Linked DNA regions of Homo sapiens. The protein of the gene in region 1 interacts with the protein of each later gene in a pairwise test. Each region holds a gene or a part of one and is shown in the gene's direction. Other genes may lie near its edges.

Evidence for each region.
Region 2: the proteins of VDAC1 (region 1) and PRDX6 interact in binary tests that used the Homo sapiens proteins (3 or more experiments, as listed by UniProt).
Region 3: the proteins of VDAC1 (region 1) and HK1 interact in binary tests that used the Homo sapiens proteins (3 or more experiments, as listed by UniProt).

Annotation. Positions count from the first base shown.
Region 1 is NC_000005.10:133,994,957-134,002,113, reverse strand, and holds part of VDAC1 (non-selective voltage-gated ion channel VDAC1), read left to right. Parts: intron 1-7,157. UniProt on the Homo sapiens protein: Non-selective voltage-gated ion channel that mediates the transport of anions and cations through the mitochondrion outer membrane and plasma membrane.
Region 2 is NC_000001.11:173,472,352-173,480,469, forward strand, and holds the start of PRDX6 (peroxiredoxin-6), read left to right. Parts: upstream 1-4,983; 5' UTR 4,984-5,046; coding exon 5,047-5,141; intron 5,142-8,118. UniProt on the Homo sapiens protein: Thiol-specific peroxidase that catalyzes the reduction of hydrogen peroxide and organic hydroperoxides to water and alcohols, respectively. Can reduce H(2)O(2) and short chain organic, fatty acid, and phospholipid hydroperoxides.
Region 3 is NC_000010.11:69,321,847-69,328,846, forward strand, and holds part of HK1 (hexokinase-1), read left to right. Parts: intron 1-7,000. UniProt on the Homo sapiens protein: Catalyzes the phosphorylation of various hexoses, such as D-glucose, D-glucosamine, D-fructose, D-mannose and 2-deoxy-D-glucose, to hexose 6-phosphate (D-glucose 6-phosphate, D-glucosamine 6-phosphate, D-fructose 6-phosphate, D-mannose 6-phosphate and 2-deoxy-D-glucose 6-phosphate, respectively).

The DNA of each region.
Region 1 (7,157 bases):
AATTTCCCGTGGTGTAGTGTCTTCGGTGGTAGTGACTGGAAGAGGCGCATGTGTGGTTGAGGACCAGCCGAAGCTTGGAGGCAGCCCCTCCTGGTGCTCAGAGATTCTGTAGTCTGCGGCTTTGGGTTTTCCATGGAGTCCTGTGGTAGCCACTGAGAAAAGTTGACCAGTGGGCTCCTCAGCTGGGTCTGGGCGCATTTCTCCATTTTACCACGTACTCAGGGGGTTTGGGATGAGTGGGACTTTAAGTTCTTTACTCAGAACTGTGCTGGAAAGAGCACTGGAGAGTAGCTTAGGCCCATAACACAGGTCTGGTGAGCCATAGGGTCGGTCTCATACAGGTCAAGTCACTGTCTTGTGCCTCAGTTTCTCTCTCTCTTTTTTTTTTTTTTTTTTTTAGATGGAGTCTCACTCTGTTGCCCAGGCTGGAGTGCAGTGGTGCAATCTCGGCTCCCTGCAATCTCTACCTCTCGGGTTCAAGCAAGTCTCTGCCTCACCCTCTCGAGTAGCCGGGATTACAGGCGCCTGCCACCATGCCTGGCTAATTTTTTTGTATTTTTTAGTAGAGATGGGGTTTCACCATCTTGGCCAGGTTGGTCTTGAACTCCTGACCTCCTGATCCACCCGCCTCGGCCTCCTAAAGTGCGGGGATTGCAGGTGTGAGCCACTGAGCCCGGCCGAGTTTGTCTGCTATAAAAGTATGATTGTCGTCATTACAGTGATTGCTGATTGAGGGCTTGCTCAGCACCTTTCTGGGGGCTCAACGAATGTTCTGTGATGTTGAGTTCACCACCCTATACCCTGGGAGAGAGATAGTGTGTTTCCATTTCACAGGTCAGCAGACTCGAGCACAGAGAGGTGAGGTAACACAGCCTGGCAGGAGTGGAGTTGGGATTCAAGGCCTGGTCTGAATGGTGGTGCTCTCACATTGCAGTTGCACTCCAAGGGACCCTTGCAAGGTGCTAACAGATGTGAATGCCTTTTGGAAAGTCAAAATTGGTGTTCAGATGGGAGACATTATTTTTCCACACCAGTCAGAGTGAACTTGTGCATGGCTGTGTGCGGGCCAACTGGCAGTGGACAATGGAGTCACCTCTATTTCTTGCAAGGACAGTGGTGCTGAGTGTCTATTATAAGGGTCCGTTTTCCCTGGGATCTGGTGGGAGGCATTCTTTCAGGACCTGTTCAGCTAAACAATGCCTCATTGTGGACATGAAGGACTCTGGACCCTGTGGTTCAGGGTGACCTTTTGAACATGCTTAGCAGCCATTATTATAATAAATATACAAAATGAAAACTTGTGATAAAATACTGTGTGTATTCCCTGCTTACCAAGCGCCAGCCACTGTACCAAGTGTTGTATATTAACGAGCTAATTCAGTCCTCACAGTGACGCCATCCAGGCTCTCTTTCTCCATATTAGAGCTGAAGAAAAAGGAGTAGAGAGGTTGCGACTTGCCCAAAGTCACATACCTAGAAAGTGGTGGGGTGGGTTAGAACTCAGGTCTATTTGATTCCCGAGGCTTCCTGCCCAAGCACTGTCTGTCTCAACCCTACCTGGTCAAGCCAAGCAGTGAGGCTCCAGGGAACTTGAGGTGCCTTAGGTCAGGTAGGAGCCCCAGGTATGCCTGGGATCCAGACCATAGTGTACTGGCTGCCAGCGCAGGCCATCTCCCCTTGATAGGTGGGTGGGCAGGCTGCCCTGAGTCAGCAACCTCTTGAGCCCAGGAGCTCAGCATGGAACTCAGCTGTGCTGGTGGTGGCCCAGCTGCCAGGGTGTTTCAAAATAGAAGCTACCCCTGGAAAGCTCTACTGCCCACTGCGAGACTGTTGTGGAAGAATGGAGGGAGAGAACAGCTGCATTGGGTACGCAGACCTGCTACCAGAACACAGGGCCATCAGCCTTTGCCAGCATCCTGGAGCTTGAACCAGGAACTGTTCCCCTGGGTTGTTTCTTCCTGGCAAGAAAGAGAAAGTGCTGGAGTGTGTGTGTGTGCATGCGTGCATGTGTGTGAGCGAGCTGCTGATTGTGTTCGCCCCCATGTTGGCTTTTAGAGCTAGGGTTGCCTTCTGCTGGGGAAGTTGCTTTTCCTGGTCCTCAGGGCTAGGAAGAGGTGCTGTTTCTGTGATCACTGGCTGGTCTGATACCCCTCCTATAGGCTGGCCTAGTTCTGCCCTGACAAACCACCTAGAATGGTGTTGGTGAAACAGCGGGGCCAGAGACTTTTCCATAGTACTCTCTTCCTTGGCAGAATCATAAGATGATGGCAATGATGATGATGATGGTTGTGATTGCTCTGTTGGTTAGCGTCTTTGCAGGGATCTGGTGCACACTTACACTTGGTAATCCAGGAGAGTTTAATGAAGACATCATTTGCAAAGCTGTGGATGGGGTGTCAGGTCTGGTCTGTTAACACCCTGAGGCCTACAAGAGAGGGAGCTTCTTGGCAGGAGCTGTGGCCTTGGGTAGAGGAAGGTAGTCATTGCCCATCTGAAGCCTAGCAGGGAGGGAGACTCGGGGTGAGTACCCCGACTTCATTCTTCCCTAAACTCCCGTCTTCTGCAAGTACCTCACGTTGAAAGGCTAAGCCCAATCATAAGCCCATGGACAGCAGTCCATAATGATCAGTTCTGGGGGCACAGAGCAGGGTGGAAGGGAGGAGAATGGATCTGGAGGGGCAGACAGAGTATCCAGTGTAGTGGATTATGGTTATTACTGCCATTTGTTGAACACTTACTCCATGCCAGATACTTCTGCTGTTCTGCCTGTTTCACTCATTCCTTGTAACAACTTCCTTAGGCCTAAGGCCTTTCCTCCCAGCTGTTTTTAGCTGAGTCTTGGAGACCCATGGCCACCCTGCTCCCTGTATCAACCATTGCAGTAGTTGTTGGCTCTCTAGGGGTGCAAAGCTCATCTGCCTGAATCCTTCTATTATTACTATTTATTTCTTTTTATTTTTTATTTAAAAGAGACAGGGTCTCACTGTATTGCCCAGGCTGGTCTCGAACTCCTGCATTCAGGCGATCCTCCTGCCTCAGCCTCCCAAAGTGCTGGGATTAGAGGCGTGAGCCACCATGCCTGGCACATGCCTGAATCCTTTTGAGGGAGCCTCTGCAGAGAAGAGAGCATATTTCTACCAGGCGGGGGCCTGGTAGGTGCTTAGTGCAGGAACCGCCCTGAGCTGCTGCTTCTCAGTGGCACCTGGGGGCAGCCCTGCCTGTTAGGCACAGGCTGAGAGGTAGGGCAGGAGGAGTTCCATCTCTTCTGGCAGGCTCTTCTTGAACAAGCGCCTCCGGTGATTCTTGTGCACCCTGAAGTTAGGGAGCTCTTTCCTGCTCATGATTTCTGGCAGGGTGGCCAAGCCACTAGTGGTCACCTGGGAGTGAAATGTGCCCCGACGGACCTTGCCTGATAACTCTTCCATCTCAGTGTAGTTTAAATCTGTTCTTGCAATCTGTATGGACACTCTAGGTAGCCTTCTGGCATTGCTACTGCAGCAGCCTTGGAACGTGATTTGGGACACAACACAGCTCAATTTCAGGCACAGTGGTTGGCTTTTAAAGTGCTGTTTTTTTGGAGAGGGAGTCTCTCGCTCTGTCACCCAGGCTGGAGTGCAGTGGCACGATCTTGGCTCACTGCAGCCTTTGCCTTTGGGTTCAAGTGATTCTCATGCCTCAGCCTCCCAAGTAGCTGGGATTACAGGCACTTACCACCACGCCCGGCTAATTTTTGTATTGAAATTCTTTATCCTTAAACAAATTATTAGTATACACAAACAGCTTAAATAATGAAGCAGAACAAAAAATGAAAATTCGATTTGAAGTGCATTCCTTCCCTAAACCTCCTTCTCCAGAAGCGTATCTAAGCCAGCCCCAATTTGCAGATTGGCTTGTATCCTTCCACATGCTTTCCCATCCATTCATGAACATAGAAAGATGTGTAAAAAGGTTTTCCTCCAATTACATGGAATTACAAATTTTCTGACTTTTTTCATTTAACTGTATCATAGCTAGCTAGCTTTCTTTCTTTTTTTTTTTTTTGTTTCGAGACGGAGTTTTACTCTTGTTGCCCAGGCTGGATTACAATGGCGCGATCTCAGCTCACCACAACCTCCACCTCCCAGGTTGAGGCAATTCTTCTGCCCCAGCCTCCCGAGTAGCTGGGATTACAGGCATGCGCCACCACGCCTGGCTAATTTATTTTGTATTTTTAATAGAGACAGGGTTTCTCCATGTTGGTCAGGGTGGTCTCGAACTCCTGACCTCAGGTGACCCGCCCACCTCGGCCTCCCAAAGTGCTGGGATTACAGGCATGAGCCACTGCGCACGGCTATCGTAGCTTCATAGCTAGCTTTCTATGCCACCACATACATCCACCTTATTCTTTTTTTTTTTTTTTTTTTTTTGTGAGACAGTCTCGCTCTGTCATCCAGGCTGGAGTGCAGTGGCATGATCTTGGCTCACTGCAACCTCTGCCTCCTGGTTTAAGCTTGTGCCTCAGCCTCTCAAGTAGCTGGCATTACAGGCGTGCACCATCACACCTGGGTGATTTTTTTTTTTTATTTTTTTTTTATTTTTAGTAGAGACGGGGTTTTGCCATGTTGGCCAGGTTGATCTGGAAGTCCTGGCCTGAAGTGATCCGCCCACCTCAGCCTCCCAAAGTGCTGGGATTACAGGCATGAGCCACCCACCTTATTCTTTTTGATTACCATATGGTACTCCTTAGTTTGCAAGTATAGTACCTTAATTTTTATTCATTCATTTTCCTTTTGATGGACTTTTAGGTTGCTTCTGGGTTTTGTGTTACAAATACTGCTGCAGTGAGCATCCTCATATACACATCTTTGAGTAGTGCCTTGGTTGCTACAGTGGGGCAGGTTCCTAGAAGTGGAATTGCCACTAGGGTTAATGCTGGGTTAATTGCTCTCCAAAAAGAGTGTACCTGTAGTACTCCCCCTTGGCGTGAACAAGAGTGACTGTTTTCCACACCCTCACTGACACTGGATATTATTTACGTTTTTGCCAGACTGCTGGTTAAGTGAGCTTCTGAAACACAGATGTGGTAGTCACTCAACAGTGGCTCTTGGTGGCCCTTAGAATAAAATCCATGCATGGTATTGAGGTCAGAAGCAACCAGTGCTTCTGATGGCACTTGGTCTCCTCAGCCTGAGATCAGCTCTCCTTAGGCCGAGGTGGGAGCAGGCAGGGAGTGGAGGTCATTGCTAGTTGAGGGTCTCCCCAACTCCCCCACTCTTGGTGATGCTGCAACAGTGAGCCTGCAGAGGGAGCTCTTACTTCCTGGTTGCATTGTAATGAGTTCCTATTGTCAGATTCCAAGTTTCTACTTTTTTCCCCATTGCTAAATAATACTTTGATGCTCATTGCTCATTCACTCATCAAACACATTTATATTGAATGCCTATTATGTGCCAGGGCTTAGCATCTTTATATACGTAACTTTTTCCATATTTTGGATAAATTTATGCATGACAGGCTCTGGGGTGCTTTGAATTCAAAGAGGTGATTTTGGGGGTAGGTGTATGGGGTAGGGTGGGGTGGGGGCACGGTGAGCACAGCAGCTGTCATTGCCATTCAGCTGATGAGCCAAGAAGGATGTGTACCCCCAAGACAGAGGTTACGTAAGTATTATGCAGACTGTGCTGGGTGATAGATACACTATCCTTCCCCTCTGTGCTTCCAGTATGGGCCGGATTTTCATTCCTCAGCTGGAATGGGGCTTGCATAATTTGTTCAAGGTCAGCCAAGGAAAGGTTGGGTAGGTAGACTGGCAGGCTGTGGAGGGGAACCAGGGACTCCTGTATCCTGGTGTGACTTGCTGGTCCTTCTCAAAGTCTTCAGTGACTGCAGGCAGGTCTGCTCAGCCTGGCCCTGCCCATCCCTCTGTTTCCTACCAACCAGTGGGAACAAAGCCCCCAGGCTCTGCCCTGAAGCCATCACTCAGGCAGAGAGGCCTGTGGTTCTGACTCCCCCAGGACGCCCTCTGACTTCTGTCTGTCCAGGGCTAGCTGCTTTGCCGATGCCAGACTGCCCTGCTTCATGCGCAGCCTCTAGAGGCTCAGCTTGTGAAGGCCCCTGGGGGGTGGATGCTGCAGAGACAGCTGTGTATCAGTAGCTAACTGTACAGGCTCCGATTTGGAGCAGATCTGGGTGGAAGGAGTGACTGGGAGGGGTGGGGGCCAGGGTTCAGCCTTCAAGTCAGCACCCTGGCAGGGTGTTAAGTGAAAGCAGGCTTTGTTGCCGACTTTTCTTTCCTCCAGTCCTCGCCTTAGAAAATTAATGCAGATTATTATTTCTATCATAAAATTGTCTCTGAAATGGGTTCGAGAGCTGTGTAAAAATGGGCATTTTGGGGGTGCTGTCTGTAGCTGTAAGAAAGCTGAACTTCTCGGAGCGGCAGAGCTGTCTCGGGCCTTCCTTAGTTCCGTCAGATCAGTGCAGCAGGGGATGGGCCGAAGTGCACAAAAAGGAGGGGAAGCTACCACTACCTGGCAGTTGGGGGCCTTTAGTGAAAGGGTGAGTCATCCTTTTGCTGTCCTCGGTGGTGTCACTTCAGGCCCAGGAGTGGACTTGACTCCATTCAGCCAGTGGTTTCTGTGAGTCTTCCTTGCCAGGTGCTATGCTGGGGAGAATGCTTACTTGGGGGCCCAGAACGGGGGAGATTATGCTTCATTGTCGGTGTTCAAGGAGATGGGGAAGAGAGCAAGACACAGATGAGAAAGCCAGCATCCAGTATGTTTACAGTGAGGCATTGGATAGGGATATGTTTTAGTGAACCAGCAAGTTCACTTGCGTGCTGCTGGTACCAACTACATGGTTGTGTTGTGGAACCCCACAGCCCCAAAAGAGCTTGGCCGTGTCGGAGCTCCTAGAGGCCCCAGGAGGGGTCCGGTCTGCTCTTCTGAGCTCTGCTCTCTGAGTGCCTTGTCCTTGGGTGGTAATCTCTTTAGTGGCCTTGTACTTCAGGCTGATGTTTGCTGTGGGTGGGGTGTTTTTTGACAGGTGGCTGTGCTTGTTGGATTTTGGGGATTAGCGATGAGAGAGGGCATTTGGGGAACATTTAATGGATGAGTGCTCTGCCTTTATCCTGAGCGGGGACCAGTCCAGATGTGAAGGCTGCTGTGTCTGGGAGGCGTCTC
Region 2 (8,118 bases), on another chromosome or scaffold:
CTTAACGATGGGGATATGTTCTGAGAAATGTGTCATTAGGCAATTTTGTCATTGTGTGAACATTATGGAGTGCACTTACACAAACCTAGATGGTATAGTCTACTACATACCTAGGCTACATGGTATAGCTTATTGCTCCTACGCCTCAAACCTGCACAGCACATTACTATACTGAATACTGTAGGCAATTATAACACCATGGTAAATATGGCTCAAGCCTGTAATCCCAGCCCTTTGGGAGGCTAAGGTGGGAGGACTACTTAAGCCCAGGAATTTCAGACCAGCCTGGGCAACACAGGTTAGGAAGACCCCGTCTCTACCAAAAATAAAACAATTGCCCAGGTATGGTGGCATGTGCCTGTAGTCCCAGCTACTCAGGAGGCTGAAGTGAGAGGACTGCTTGAGCCCAGGAGCTTGAGGCTGCAGTGAGCTATGATCACACCACTGCACTCCAGCCTGGGTGACAGAGCAAGGCCCTGTCTTAAAAAAAAAAAATGAAAAAAAAAAGGATAAAAAATGGTACACCTATATAGGGCATTTACCATGAATATAGCTTGCAGGACTGGAAGTTGCCATGGGTGAGACAGTGAGTGAGTGGTGAATGAATGTACTGTAGACTTTATAAACACTGTACACTTAGGCTACACTAAATTCATGTGTAAAAATTTCTTTCTTCAATAACAAATTAACCTTACCTTACTATAACTTTTTTACTTTATAAACTTTAAAATTGTTTTAATGTTTTGACTCTTCTGTAATAACACTTAGCTTAAAACACAAACACATTGTATAGCTATACAAAATACTGTATTTTCTTTTTTATATTCTTATTCTATAAGCTTTTTTATAATTCTAAAAGGTTATTGTCTTTTGAAACTTTTTAAACTTAAAAACAAAGACATAAATGCACACATTAGCCTAGGGCTTCACAGGGTCAGGATCCTCAAGACATCACTATGCGAAAGGAATTTTTCAGCTCCATTATCATCTTATGAGACCACCGTAGTATATGTGGTCCAATGTTGTATCACATGACTGTATAACTAGAGACATCTTGCTCTTTTACTCCCAGCTGTGGACAAACAAGAAACTTTGCTGTTGTGGCTGCAGGAAGGCGACCCAATGTTTCTCTAATACTTTGTACAACGTAGTCCTCATGCCCACTATGTGTAACAGGTCACAAATATTCATTAATAAAATATAGTCAAACCTTTAGGAGTTCACAATCTAGTGAGAGAGACAGGCATCATGGTGCACTGTTGTTTTTCCAAATGCCCATTGCTAATCTGTTCATTTTATTCTTCTGTCAAAGCAGTAAAGACAGAAGAGAAGATGTGAGTCATCCCAGAGTCACAGCCCTCTGGAAATGCCTGAAATCCATTCTTTCCTGTCCCTCAGATTACTGTAAGGACTTCAAGGTTCTCTCCGACCCTTATAGCTGTATGAAAACACTTTTTCTGATAGGAGAGCCTCCACCCTCTCTCTAAGGAAAGTAAATCCTTTCTTAGTCAAGCTCTCCCTTTTCCACACTCCGGTCTTTCCCTGGAATGTCTCCTCTGTCCTTCCTCCCCTCCTCCTTTCCCATTATACATCTCACTAACCCTCAGGAAAATAGCTTTAAAATTTTCCCTCTGGAATGGGGCCCAGTCCACAGAGCACCTACCTTTGGTATAAGTCAGATGTTAAACTCAATTACCTACGAAGGCCAGGCAGAACAGCGTTCTTCTGACTTTGTTTGCATATTAAGTTCATGGAACATTCTCTACTTTCACAAAGAAACATGATCATTTTTTTCTTGAAATATACAGCCCTTAGTTAAGCTTTCATTTGCACAGTTTTGACAGATAAGAATGCAAGAACTATTTCTTTTTCCTCCCAATTCTACTCTAATGTTAGTAACTGGCAGAGGACCTTCTGAGTAACAGAGAACATTGCCCTCTAAAAGGCTACTCAGCAGCCACTGTTTGCCAGATGGAACATGGGCCTGGTGTTGCTGTGTTGCTAGATCTTCTGACCTTTCAGGAGACAAAAATCCAGATATTTTTATGAAAAATCATGTTTTCAAAATGCTGATGTGGACGAAAGAAAGAGAGATCAGACTGTTACTGTTGTCTATGCAGAAAGAAGAAGACATAAGAAACTCCATTTTGTTCTGAACTAAGAAAAATTCTTCTGCCTTTAGATGATGTTAATCTGTAACCCTAGCCCCAACCCTGTGCTGGCAGAAACATGTGTTGTGTTGACTCAAGGTTTAATGGATTTAGGGCTACGCAGGGTGTGCTTTGTTAAAAATGTGTTTGCAGGCAGTATGCTTGGTAAAAGTCACCGCCATTTTCCAGTCTCAAGTACCCAGGGACACAATGCACTGCGGAAGGCCGCAGGGACCTCTGCCCAAGAAAGCCTGGGTATTGTCCAAGGTTTCTCCCCACTGAGACAGCCTGAGATATGGCCTCGTGGGAAGGTAAAGACCTGACCGTCTCCCAGCCTGACACCAGTAAAGGGTCTGTGCTGAGGAGGATTAGTGAAAGAGGAAGGCCTCTTTGCAGTTGAGATAAGAGGACGGCATCTGTCTCCTGCTCATCCCTGGGAATGGAATGTCTCGGTGTAAAACCCGACGTACATTCTATTTACTAAGATGGAAAAAACCGCCTTATGGCTGGAGGTGAGACATGCTGGAGGCAATACTGCTCTTTACTGCACTGAGATGTTTGTGTAAAGTCAAACATAAATCTGGCCTATGTGCACATCGAGGCATAGAACCTTTCCTTAAACTTATTTACGACACAGAGACCTTTGCTCACATGTTTTCCTGCTGACCCTCTCCCCACCATTATCCTATAGTCCTGCCACATCCCCCTCACCGAGATAGTAGAGATAGTGATCAGTAAATACTGAGGGAACTCAGAGACCAGTGCCGGGTCCTCCGTATGCTAAGCGCCGTCCCCCGGGCCCACTGTTCTTTCTCTATACTTCATCTCTGTGTCTTATTTCTTTCCTCAGTCTCTCATCCCACCTGACGAGAAACACCCACAGGCGTGGAGGGGCTGGCCCCCTTCAGTGGACAGCTAATTCAAGACAATTTAAAATGCTCCAAAGTCTAAAGCAAACAAGTTCACAGAGTGCAGAAGCATTGCCAGTGTACAGCTTCTGGCACTGTAAATTCTAATGAGTATTTTATTATATTTGCTTAATTTACAACAGACAATAATATAATTATGCCTTTGACAGACATCAATAATCTGTTTCTGTATTCATTCTCCATATTTATAGAGTATTGTGTTTTCTAGCTGATTTCCACAACATATTGTTAACAGTGCCTTAGGCCAAACTACTCTTCTTTCCCAACTATTCTCTTTCTTCCCTACAAAGGGAGTTAAAACAAGGAGCTGTTAAAACTTGGAGCCAAATTAGAGATTAAATTACATTAGCTTTAAACGGTTTTGTGAAGTGGCTAGAAATTTTTACCAGTAATCTTACTGCAAGTCCTGGGTCACTGAAGAACTCGGTAAATATGATTAGCATGCACGCACCAACACATCACTGTGATGAAAACGCAAATCACAGTATGTGAGTCACTACTCTCAACATTGCCATGCCCCTGCCTTAAACCTGCCAGCCCCATCCAGAGGATTTTTCTCATCTCTGAACTCCAATCATTTACACCTTCCCCCATCAGAATTTACCCTACATTTTATTATAATTGCATATAAATATGCCTTCCCTGTAACAGCAGGGACTGTGTTTCTCCACTGTATGGCCTGGCACAGTGTCCAGCACACAGCAGGCAAAGCAAGAGTTACTGCATGAGCCAGTGTCATCATCCAAACGATAGCTACCATTTCCAGAGCACCTACCGTGAGCTGACTAGTTTACCTACATTATCCTGGTGGCTTTCCCAGACCAGACCACCCAAACCAAAGCAGCCCCCCAGTCACCCTCTAGGCACATAACCCTATTTTAGTTCTCTGAATACGACTGATTGCTGTCTAACATATTTTGGTTTGTGTGCTTATTGTCTGTCACCGGTTTCCCTTCACAAGAAGGAAAGCTCCAAGAGGACAGGCATCTTATCTACCTTGTACTTGGCTCATAGCAAATAAATGAATCTAAGCCGCCCACCTCCCTGGGTGACAGAGTTGACCTGCACACAGTAGGTCTCAAAGAGTATGTTTTAAATTTTATATTTAGATTTCAAGATAATTGTGTTGAATATTTTATGGTTCATAACAAACAGAAAGGGGAGGGCAGAATAAAAATAAATAAAAGTTTAGTTACATTACCCTAGCACTGACATTGGTACGGGAATTTTTGCTGCAATAAGAAAGCCACTTCCTCTGACATAAGGTCACCCATACTTCTGGGTCTTGCCACATCCTCTTAGACAGTTCATCGTAGCTGGGCTGGCTGGGGCGGTCAGGACTCCAGACGCTCACACTAAAAGAGGGGTGGTAGTCGAGCAGTCACTCCACTCCTCTGTAGGGAGCTGGCCGCGAGTGGGTGCGCAGCAGGGTGCGCGCGGACCCGTGCAGCGCCCAGGGCGGCTGTGCGAAGCCGCCGCAGCCTGCGCGCCCAGGCGATTCTCCACCTTGGGGCTCGCCTTCCTGCCGCGTTCCTCTTCCTTCCATCCCTAAAGCGCGTACGCCCTGCAGAGTCAAACCTGGCGCATCCTCAAGCTTCCAGGGGGCAACGTGACCGAGCCCCGCATCACGTGTGCAGAGACGGCCTATAGTGTCTGAAGGATGCCACCTAGTCGCAGGCCCGGCGGCGCCACCAACAGCGACCGCGGTAGTCCAGCTCGCGCCGCGTCCCGGCCCCAGCCCGGCCCGGCCCAGCCCCGCCCCGCGCCCAGCCCCGCCCCGCCCCGCGCCCAGCCCAGCCCCCGCGGCCCGGCCCCCAGCGGCCGGCCTCCCGCGGCCCCGCCCCCGCCGCCCCAGTCCCCGCCCCTCGCGCCTTCGTTTATTCCTCCGCGCGCTGGGACAGGCTGCTTCTTCGCCAGAACCAACCGGTTGCTTGCTGTCCCAGCGGCGCCCCCTCATCACCGTCGCCATGCCCGGAGGTCTGCTTCTCGGGGACGTGGCTCCCAACTTTGAGGCCAATACCACCGTCGGCCGCATCCGTTTCCACGACTTTCTGGGAGACTCGTAAGTGGCCACCGCGTAGCCCTGTCCTGGCCTCGGTTGCGCCGGACTCGGAGGTGCCTTCCCTGTTTCTTCTCCCTGCCGTCCTCCCGGCCGCTCAGCCCCCTGCGCCGCCCTCGCCTTCCCCCGCACTGGTTCCGGCGCGCGCCAGGCCGTGTGGCCTCTGCTCAGCGTCGGCTGCGCTGCTGGGAGCTGGCACCCGTTCGGCCTGCCCTGCGCGGGCCACTCGATCCCTCCTGGCCTCCCCGCCTCCGGCGTGGCTGGGCAAGGCCACGCCAAGGTGGGGGGTGGGGAGGATAAAATTGTGTTCTGCGGGTTCTGGAAACTCACCGCCCGCGGGAGGGTTTGTTGTCCATTTAACTCGTCTTAGTAAACTGTGCAGGTAGCGTGGTCAGGCCGAGGGCGCAGGGGCGGGGCGGCATTGACGATCACTTCCCCGGACTAGTGCCCAGGGTCGCACCGCCCTCCCACCCTCCGTTCTGGAATTTGCTCCCTGGGGAGGATGGGTGTCTAAAGCCAAAGTCGGAGGACACAGCTGCTGGCTATAGGTTACAGGAAGGCCAACGTATCATCTGAGGGTGCAGTGGTATTTGCAGGCTTCTGGGCACAAAATGTGAAATTTAAAACCACTAGCTGCCAAGTAGGTGGCCGAAAGACTTTTTGTCCAGAGCCGCCTCCAATGGCCAAGATATGATTTGATAACAGCTTTAGGAAGAGCCAAGAACACTCTGCGTAGGTGTGCCTTCAGAGATTCCAGAACTTGCAACACTTGGAGGGAAGGACTTTCTGACGCTGTTCCGCTGGAGTGGCCTATTCTTGCTAGTGATGGCCGTTCCAGGCTCCAGGACACGTGTACTCCCCAACTTTGAGACTCTCTTGTTTTCCAGTGGCTTGCCCCTCACTGTCCCCTCCGCTTTCTACCTTGCTTCTAGCACATGAGCTTGCTGATGATAGCCAAATTGATGACCTGTGATCTGACTTGGCAGTTTTACCATTATGGATAGGAGTAGTAAATCGGTGTTGCCCTTTTTTTTTTTTAACAGCTCCTGAATCAGCAAACTGGAAGTTGCTTAGTTTTCATCAGAAGCATTCCAGGCATGTCTAGTTATATTATGGTTCTGGAGTACTAGTGGTCCCACTACACTGTGGGGCTCCAAGGCTTGACAACAGTTCTTCCCCAGATTATATCCTTTTTATATACAGTATCCAGGGAGACAGGCTTATGAAATTAATCAGTGATTGGACAGGGCTGTGCAGAGAACCAGGGACAGATTCTTACACATCATATGCCTATCCAACCCTTTATAACCTCTTAAGTCCCTTTTCCAGCCACTGAATAGGGAAAAGTTAAGCTTTGTGAAAGATAGGACTAGGCCAGAAAAAGGTTGAGAAATGGAATATTCAAACCTTGAATGCAGAAAAATACTTTAGAAATACAGCTTATGGCCATTCTTATACTTAGGATCTAGGTAGTAATATTTCTCCAGCAATCCTTGGGATTTTTAGAGTTGTGTTCCTTCCCATTTCTACCTGCAGCCCTCATCCCCCATCCCCATGAAACATAAACTATTTCCAGAACTCTTAGCTTGTATAGATTAAATATTAGCATAAAACGTATTTACTGTGCCAACAGTTATAAATGCTGTCACTTTTTAAGCTAACCATACTTTTTTGGGGTTTTGTTAATGTTTATTGGCCTCTAGATCCATCTAGATTTGATCAAAAGTGGTACTTTATCAGGGAGCCATAGTTAGGAACACGGTAGAAATATCTGCATTTATTAACTAATATACAAGTCTGCCTAGGATCAGGTATAGTATTCCCTACCTTACCGGGAAGAGAAGTTTGAGCCTTTTATATGTTTATAACACATGGATTTTTGCCTGATTTTTCCAATTTTCTATTCTGTATATGATCCCAAATCAGACTGTCAATTTTTGATCCAGGTATTTTTGAGAAGAAAAAATTAAAATGTATTTCTCTACCTTACCCCTGATCATTGTAAACAACTAAAGAGGTTGGGTGCTACATTGGGTGAGTTTACCTTATCGCTGTTTCTTTAAGTGGTAGAAGCAGCTTCTTCATAGTACATCTTCACTAAGCAAAATATGTGTTTTCCAGGGGTCTTCTGGGGCTTAGTAAGTGGGAACCATTCTCTTGAAGGAGGAAACCTTTTGTCTTTTGAAAATGGGTAAGAAAATGGGAGCATGTCACTGAATTACTCTTAAGTGCAGCAGTAGGAAGACTTGGAGGGGAAGGAAGGCCAAGGTAAGACATTCTTGGAGTTTATCCTATTTGTAGCCATGAGGTAAACTGGAGTTTCACTTCTGAGGGAGGGAAGGACGTGAACTGGCTTAAAACCAGTTCCTTTTGCATGATTCAGCAAAACAGTCTTTATGGACTCACAGTGGAAAAAGAACTCCTAACTTTTCTAATTTATCCTCCTTTTAACGATAGAGGAGGAAACGCCCTGTTCCATTTCTTCTCAACTTCTGGAGACCTTCTGTTAAGTCTCATCTAACCATTAAATAGATCGTTTTCCATAGAATCTAAGGCCTAGATTTTACTCATAGTGATATTATCTACTTCAAAAGATATACTCTATGTTCTTCCTTTTGCCCTTCATAGTAAAGTGAACATAGTGCACACCTCCACAATCTTAAAAAAAAATACTAACTTTCCTCCCAGTCTTGCCATAGGGCCCTCCATCCTTTTTGTAAGAAGATCTTTTTCCTTCTTGAAACCTTGGGAGTTGAGTGGCAGCCGTAAGTAGGAAGGAGGTGCCCTTGTCTTTGCTTGTTCTCTGTGCTCAGGGAAACTTCAGAAAGGTCAACTTGGCATCTAGGCTAGATTTAGTTATCTACTAGTTTAGGATCCTGCCTAAATCATCTGGTTTAGGATGGTTTAAGTTGATGGGGATGTGGAGAACTGAGTGTTAAATTTTCCTTTTCAGTTGAAAGAGTAGTTTCTGTTGCCAAGA
Region 3 (7,000 bases), on another chromosome or scaffold:
AGAGGGTGTACTGGCATTAGGCTGAGCTAAGCACAAAACACATATATTCCTTTCACTCTTCTAGTGCCTGTAGGAGGAAAGGGAGGCATATGTGTGCTTGTGAAGGATTCCATTCATCAGAATCCCAGACATCTGCCAGTTCTGCAGCTAGAGGCTGGGTTCTTTGACCTCTAAGTAACTTTAAACACGCATCTCATCTCGCCAGCTTCTTCCACTCGGTTTAGCCATTAGGAGCTTGGAGCAGGGTGAAGGATTGCATAGTGCTCTGTTTGTTTAGAAAGGGAAGATGGGTCCAGGAAGGTCAGAACTTGGCTTCTAAAGAAAGATTAGACTTCCTTTCCTCCAGGCTTGTCAGAATGGTGAGCAAATGCCAGTGGATTTTCTCTGGGCGAGATCCCCATAACGCTAAGTGATTTCCACTAGTAGGTGATCATGAAAAGGGTGTCATTTCTTTCCTCATTGCCTTGAGGCACATCAATAATTCAACTCCATAAAAATATATCCTGGGTTGAAACAGTTCAGGTGTCTGACTTCCCAGTTTGGAACCCCATTATCCAGACGGCATCTGCATAAATTGGTTAATGGGTGCTGTTGAAGAGAGTGTGATTTGTCCAATGGCCGAACTCAGGAGTCCTTGAGTACTTGACCCAGGAAGACAGGGGAGAGTAGGCTTAGCAATTAAAGGGTTGCCCAAGGTACATTCCTTAGAGCCTATGTGTTCCAGCTGCAAAAGCAAGCATTAAAAATAAATAAATAAATAAAAGGCCGATGTAGTGGCTCACACCTGTAATCTCAGCACTTTGGGAGGCTGAGGCGGGTGGATCACCTGAGGTCGGGAGTTCGAGACCAGCCTGACCAACATGGAGAAACCCCGTCTCTACTAAAAATACAAAATTAGCTGGGTGTGGTGGCGCATGCCTGTAATCCCAGCTACTTGGGAGGCTGAGGCCGGAGAATCACTTGAACCTGGAAGGCAGAGGTTGCGGTGAGCCGAGATCACGCCATTGCACTCCAGCCTAGGCAACGAGAGCGAAACTCCGTCTCAAAAAAAAAAAAAAATGCCCATTCATTATTGCTCAGGGGTGAGAGAGGTGATAGTTAGAAAATTGTGAAAAATCTGGCTGGGCACAGTGGCTCATGCCTGTAATCCCAGCACTTTGGGAGGCTGAGGCAGGTGAATCACGAAGTCAGGAGTTCAAGACCAGCCTGACCAATATGGTGAAATCCCGTCTCTACTAAAAATACAAAAATTAGCTGGACGTGGTAGCATGCACCTGAAGTCCCAGCTACTCGGGAGGCTGAGGCAGGAGAATTGCTTGAACCGGGGAGGCGGAGGTTGCATGAGCCAGGATCATGCCACTGCACTCCAGCCTGGGCAACAGAGCGAAACTCTGTCTCAAAAAAAAAAAAAAGAAAATTATGAAAAATCTGTGGGTTCTTGCAGTGGCAAAGAAAAAAAAGAAAAAATTATGAAAAGTCAGCCTGGGCAACAAAATTAAACCTCATCTTAAAAAAAAATTTTTTTTAGCCTGCTTTGGTGGCATGCACACACCTGTAGTCACAGCTACTCAGGAGGCTCATTGAGCCCAAAAGATTGATCCCAAAACAGTGAGCTGTGATGCTATGATTGTGTTACCGTACTCCAGGCTGGATGATAGAGCGAGACTCTGTCTCAAAAAAAAAAAAAAAAAAAGAAGAAAGAAAATTATGAGAAGTGTCTCATAACCTCTCAATTCTGATGTTGTACAAATATTCAGTGAGAGCTTCTTGGTGAATCTTGACTTTATAATCCCTGCCTTTCCTACCTTAGATACTCCTAGGGTTTCTCCCAAGAGAAGCCCCATCACTTTATCTGGTTGGATAGTTTGGGAATGTCATGAAGGAATAAACTGGCAGGCAGGGTGTCTGTGAGGTGCTTTCACATCTGGCCAAGCTGTGCCATGCTCCCACGCTCCTACTGTTCTCCGGAGAAGACATAGGCAGCTTTCCCCTTACAAGACTGATTTGGCATGACTGGGACTGTCTGTGTGTGTCTGCAGTCAGGGATTCCTGGCAGACAGATTTAGCCACTGGAATCACCTCTGAGCATGCCTGAGAAGGTCCAGGGAAGACATGGATAAAGACAGGGAGCTGTATACCTCTGCATCCAGGAATCAGTTGTGGTCAGACTGCTGGCACCTGCTTATGGATTTGTTTTTATTTTTTTATAGAGACAGGGTCTCACCATATTGCCCAGGCTGGTCTTGAACTCCTGGGCTCAGGCAGTCCTCCCGCCTTGGCCTCCCTAAGTATGCTTATTGATTTGAAAACCCTGAAGATCAAATCTGATCACAGGAGCTCAATCATTTCTTTAAAAAATGTTTGATTTTTTTATTATGTGCAGAGGACTGTGCTAGGCTGGGGTGACAACTATAAACAAGGCAGAAACGGTCCCAGTTCTCATGGAGCATAAAATATTTGCTGGCCGGGCGTGGTGGCTCATGCCTATAATCCCAGCACTTTGGGAGGCCAAGGCAGGCTGATCATTTGAGGTCAGGAGGTCGAGACCAGCCTGACCAACATGGTGAAACCCCGTCTCTACTAAAAATACAAAAAAGGTGCCAGATGTGGTGGCTCATGCCTGTAGTCCCAGCTTCTCGGGAGGCTGAGGCAGAAGAATCACTTGAACCTGGGAGGCGGAGGTTGCAGTGAGCTGACACTCCAGTCTGGGTGACAGAACGAGACTCCATCTAAACAAAAATAATAATTAAAAAAAAATGAAGTATTTGCTGTGTTATATGTGCAAAGCATATGGGCTATGAGGGCCCACAGCATGGTGTGGTCATACCTTGGGTGGGAAATCCCTAGGCTAGGAACTGCTTACAGCTAGGCTGCAGATGTTAGCTCCTTAAGTGCTTCAGGAAGCTGCTCCCATCCCCAGTTCTGGGGATGTGTTAGTCTGTTTGGAGTAGCAGGACAGGTGCCCACTGCCTTCTGGCCTAATAAACCTTAACAACGGGATCTTTTGCAACCACTTAATATACACTGGGTTGTGTTCATTGTATTTGATCTTAAAGAAAAATAGGTAAAAATTTTACAGTTTGATTGGTCTTGATTTCTGGAAATAACATTGACTTCTGGTAAACAGTACACATCAGGGATATTATACTTAGAAACTTTGTAAGGTGGAGTCAAAATTAATTGTCACAAAAATGTGTATTTTTTTTTTTTTTTTTTTTTTTTGAGATGGAGTCTTCGCTCTGTTGCCCAGGCTGGAGTGCAGTGGCACGATCTCAGCTCACTGCAAGCTCCGCCTCCTGGGTTCTCGCCATTCTCCTGCCTCAGCCTCCTGAGTAGCTGGGACTACAGGCGCCTGCCACCACTCCCGTCTAATTTTTTGTATTTTTAGGAGAGACGGGGTTTCACTGTATTAGCCAGGATGGTCTCGATCTCCTGATCTTGTGATCCGCCTGCCTCGACCTCCCAAAGTGCTGGGATTACAGGTGTGAGCCACCACACCCGGCCATGTATTTTCTTATTCTTTTTTTTTGAGATGGAGTTCTGCTCTGTTGCCCAGGCTGGAATGCAGTGATGTGATCTCGGCTCATTGCAACCTCTGTCTCCTGGGTTCAAGCGATTCTCCTGCCTCAGCCTCCTGAGTAGCTGGGATTACAGGCACCAGCCAATGCTCCTGGCCTGCATTTTTTTTTTTTTTTTTGAGATGGGGTCTCACTCTGTATCCTGGGTTGGAGTGCAGTGGTGTGATCTCAGCTCACTGAAACCTCCATCTCGCGGGTTCAAGTGATACTTCTGCCTCAGTGCCCCCCCCTGCCCCCCAGTAGCTGGGATTACAGTCGCCTGCCACCATGCCCGGCTAATTTTTGTATTTTAAATAGAGACTGGGTTTCACCATGTTGGCCAGGCTGGTTTCAAACTCCTGACCGCAAGTGATCTGCCCGCCTTGGCCTCCCGAAATGCTGGGATTACGGGTGCCAGCTACTGCCTCTGGACTGCATTTTTTTTTTTTGAGACAGAGTCTTACTCTGTCGCCTGGGTTGTAGTACAGTAGCACGATCTCACCTCCCTGCAACCTCTGCCTGCCAGGTTCAAGCGATTCTTCTGCCTCAGCCTCCCTAGTAGCTGGGATTACAGGTGCCTGCCACTACACCCAGCTAATTTTTTGTATTTTTTGTAGAGACGGGGTTTCACCGTGTTGGCCAGGCTGGTCTTGAATTCCTGACCTCGTGATTCACCCGCCTCGGCCTCCCAAAGTGTTGGGATTACAGACGTGAGCCACCGCGCCTGGCCGCTTTTTTTTTTTTTAATGGCTTTTTGTCTCTGGGCATCCTGGAACACTTCGTGAGTGTCATGTCGGGTATGAATTATATATATATGTAATTGAGATTACACTATAAATGTTTCTGCACACAACTATACTAACATATGTGTAGGTGTGTGTATGCTTTCATATGCTCTTTCAAAAGCCTCAGCGAGGTTGTCAGTACAGGAAGTATTATTCCCGGGCTTCCCAGCACGGCTCCCTCCCCAGGGCATCCTGCTGCCTGCCTTGTGTGTTGCAGACAGAAGGCAAGCAATTTATTCCCCATTTAGAAACAGAGACTGAAGGCCCATCCAGAGGAGATAAAACATTTTTCTAAGGTCGAAAGAAAATCAGGAATAGGATTCAGAGGGCTCTTCTTGCTTCCTCTGTTTCCTTCTTTTAGGAGAAAAACCTGTCCTTGTTGATTTTAATGTTTTACCTTGGAACCTGTATTTTAATACTGTCCCCTCACAAATCAATACATTTGAGTTAATTTTTTATTATGAAATATTTGAGGCACATAAAAGAAGATTGAGGTTCACATAAACACCTCTGAGTCTGCTACTCAGCTTGAGAAGTTATAGACACAATTACAATTACATTACAGACACAGTTGAAGCCCTTTCTATGCCATCTCTGAGATAGTTTGCTGCTTCTCCCTTCGGAGGTGACCTCTGTCCTGAATTTGGTGTTTATCTTTTCATGCATGTTTTTACGCTTTTATTACATATGCATATGTCTATAAACAGTATATGGTATTGCTTTATAGATATATGGTTTTGATCTTTTGTAAATGGTGCTATACTGACTATGTGTTTAAGCAATATATGGTATTGCTTTGTGTGGTTTTAAACTTTTTTTTTTTTTTTTTTTTTTGAGATGGAATCTCATTTTGTTGCCCAGGCTGGAGTGCAGTGGCACGGTCTCAGCTCACAGCAACCTCTGCCTCCTGGGTTCAAGCAATCCTCCTGCCTCAGCCTCCTGAGTAGCTGAGATCATACCTGGCTAATTTTTTTGTATTTTTAGTAGAGACGGGGTTTCACCATGTTGGTCAGGCTGGTCTCAAAATCCTGACCTCAAGTGATCCACCTGCCTAGGCCTCTTTCCAAAGTTCTGGGATTATAGGCCTGAGCCCCCACACTCAGCCAGTTTTAAACTCTTATAAATGGTGCTATACTGTATGTATCCTTCCGCCATTTACTTTCTTTTAGCTCAACATTGTATTTTTGAGATTTTAAAAATGTTGATCTACGTAACTGTTTCATTAAACTGCTCTGGTTTCTTACAGAGTATAAAAGCTCCCTAGTTAATTCATCTATTCTGCTTTTGATAGGCATTTGTGTTTCTAATGTTTCAAGTGACAAACAATGCCTTGGTGAACTTTCTCTAGAACAACTCATTCAGCGCATGCACAAGTTTCTCTAGGCTCTAAGCTGTGTACCTAGGGCTGAGATCACCAGGCGGAGAGATGTGTGCGTTTTCCCATATACGAGATTCTGCCAAGTTGCCATCCGTGGTCATGCCAGTTCACACTCCCATCGGAAGTATGTGCAGGTTGCCTTTGTTCCACACCAACCCTTGTTATGGTCAAACCTTTGCAAATTTGTAATAGATGAGTTTTAGTCTGTTTCCTTCCTCAGTTGTTTCCATTCACATCACAGTATTCGAGCTGTGTTTAAAATTAGCCCATTTCCTGAGTTACCTTATCAGAGTCCTTGCTTCAGAGTCCCACGGACTGAAGTTGACAGCTCCATGGACTGCTGCTGCTGAGATATCTGCACTGGGGAGGGATAGTTGATGCAGGGAAAGGCTTAGGATGGCTCTCCATGGCCCCTGGTGCTGTGGGCTGACTCCGTTAAGCTTTTCTGGGAGTTGAAACACACATTTGTGAGCTTTCACTTGCACACACTTTCTCTCTTCCCGGGTGGATCCGACCCGGGTAGGGCAGGCTTATCTGTTGCGTAAATGTGCCCAGCTCTGCTCAGAGAAAACTCAAGCCAGCAGCCTCTCAGACCGTCTTCCGTAAAAGGAGAGGGTGGCTGTACCCACGTGGCAGGGAAAACTGAACCGTGAAGTCGGCGGCTCAGCCCTTTGCACACAGAAGCTGAGCTGTCCCTGTGCGAGGCAGAAAATGTCGGCTCATGTTCATCTTGAGTCTATGCCTGATTACAGGCTCCAGACTCGGAGACCTCGAGGGTGCCTTACAGGGAAGGGGGCATTCAGTGCCTACTAGGCGCCCGGCTTTTCTTTTTCTTAGCAGGGGTCTTATTTAATCATTTCTAGTACTCATATGAACCAAAGCCAACATTCATTGTTGTATTCATTGCCATGTACTGTGCTAAAGGCATCGTGAGCCTTTGCTTAGTTCATCCCCACAACGCCCTTGTGAGGTGGGTGTGATTTCAGACGGTGAGGCCCAGATAGTGAACGATAGAGCCAGCATTCAGCCTCATCAAGGCTGATGGCAGAGCTCCTGCTTTTATTATTTTCTCAATTGAGTTATAATTCACCTACCATGAAACGCATCATTGTACAGTGTACAATTCAGTGGTTTCTAATAGATTTACAAGGTTGTCCGAGCACCATCACCATCTAATTCCAGAATATTTTCATCACCCTCCGAAAAAAACTACCCGTTAGCAGTCACTTCCCATTTCTTCCTCCACCTAGCTTCTGGCAACCACTATCTACCTTTTTTTT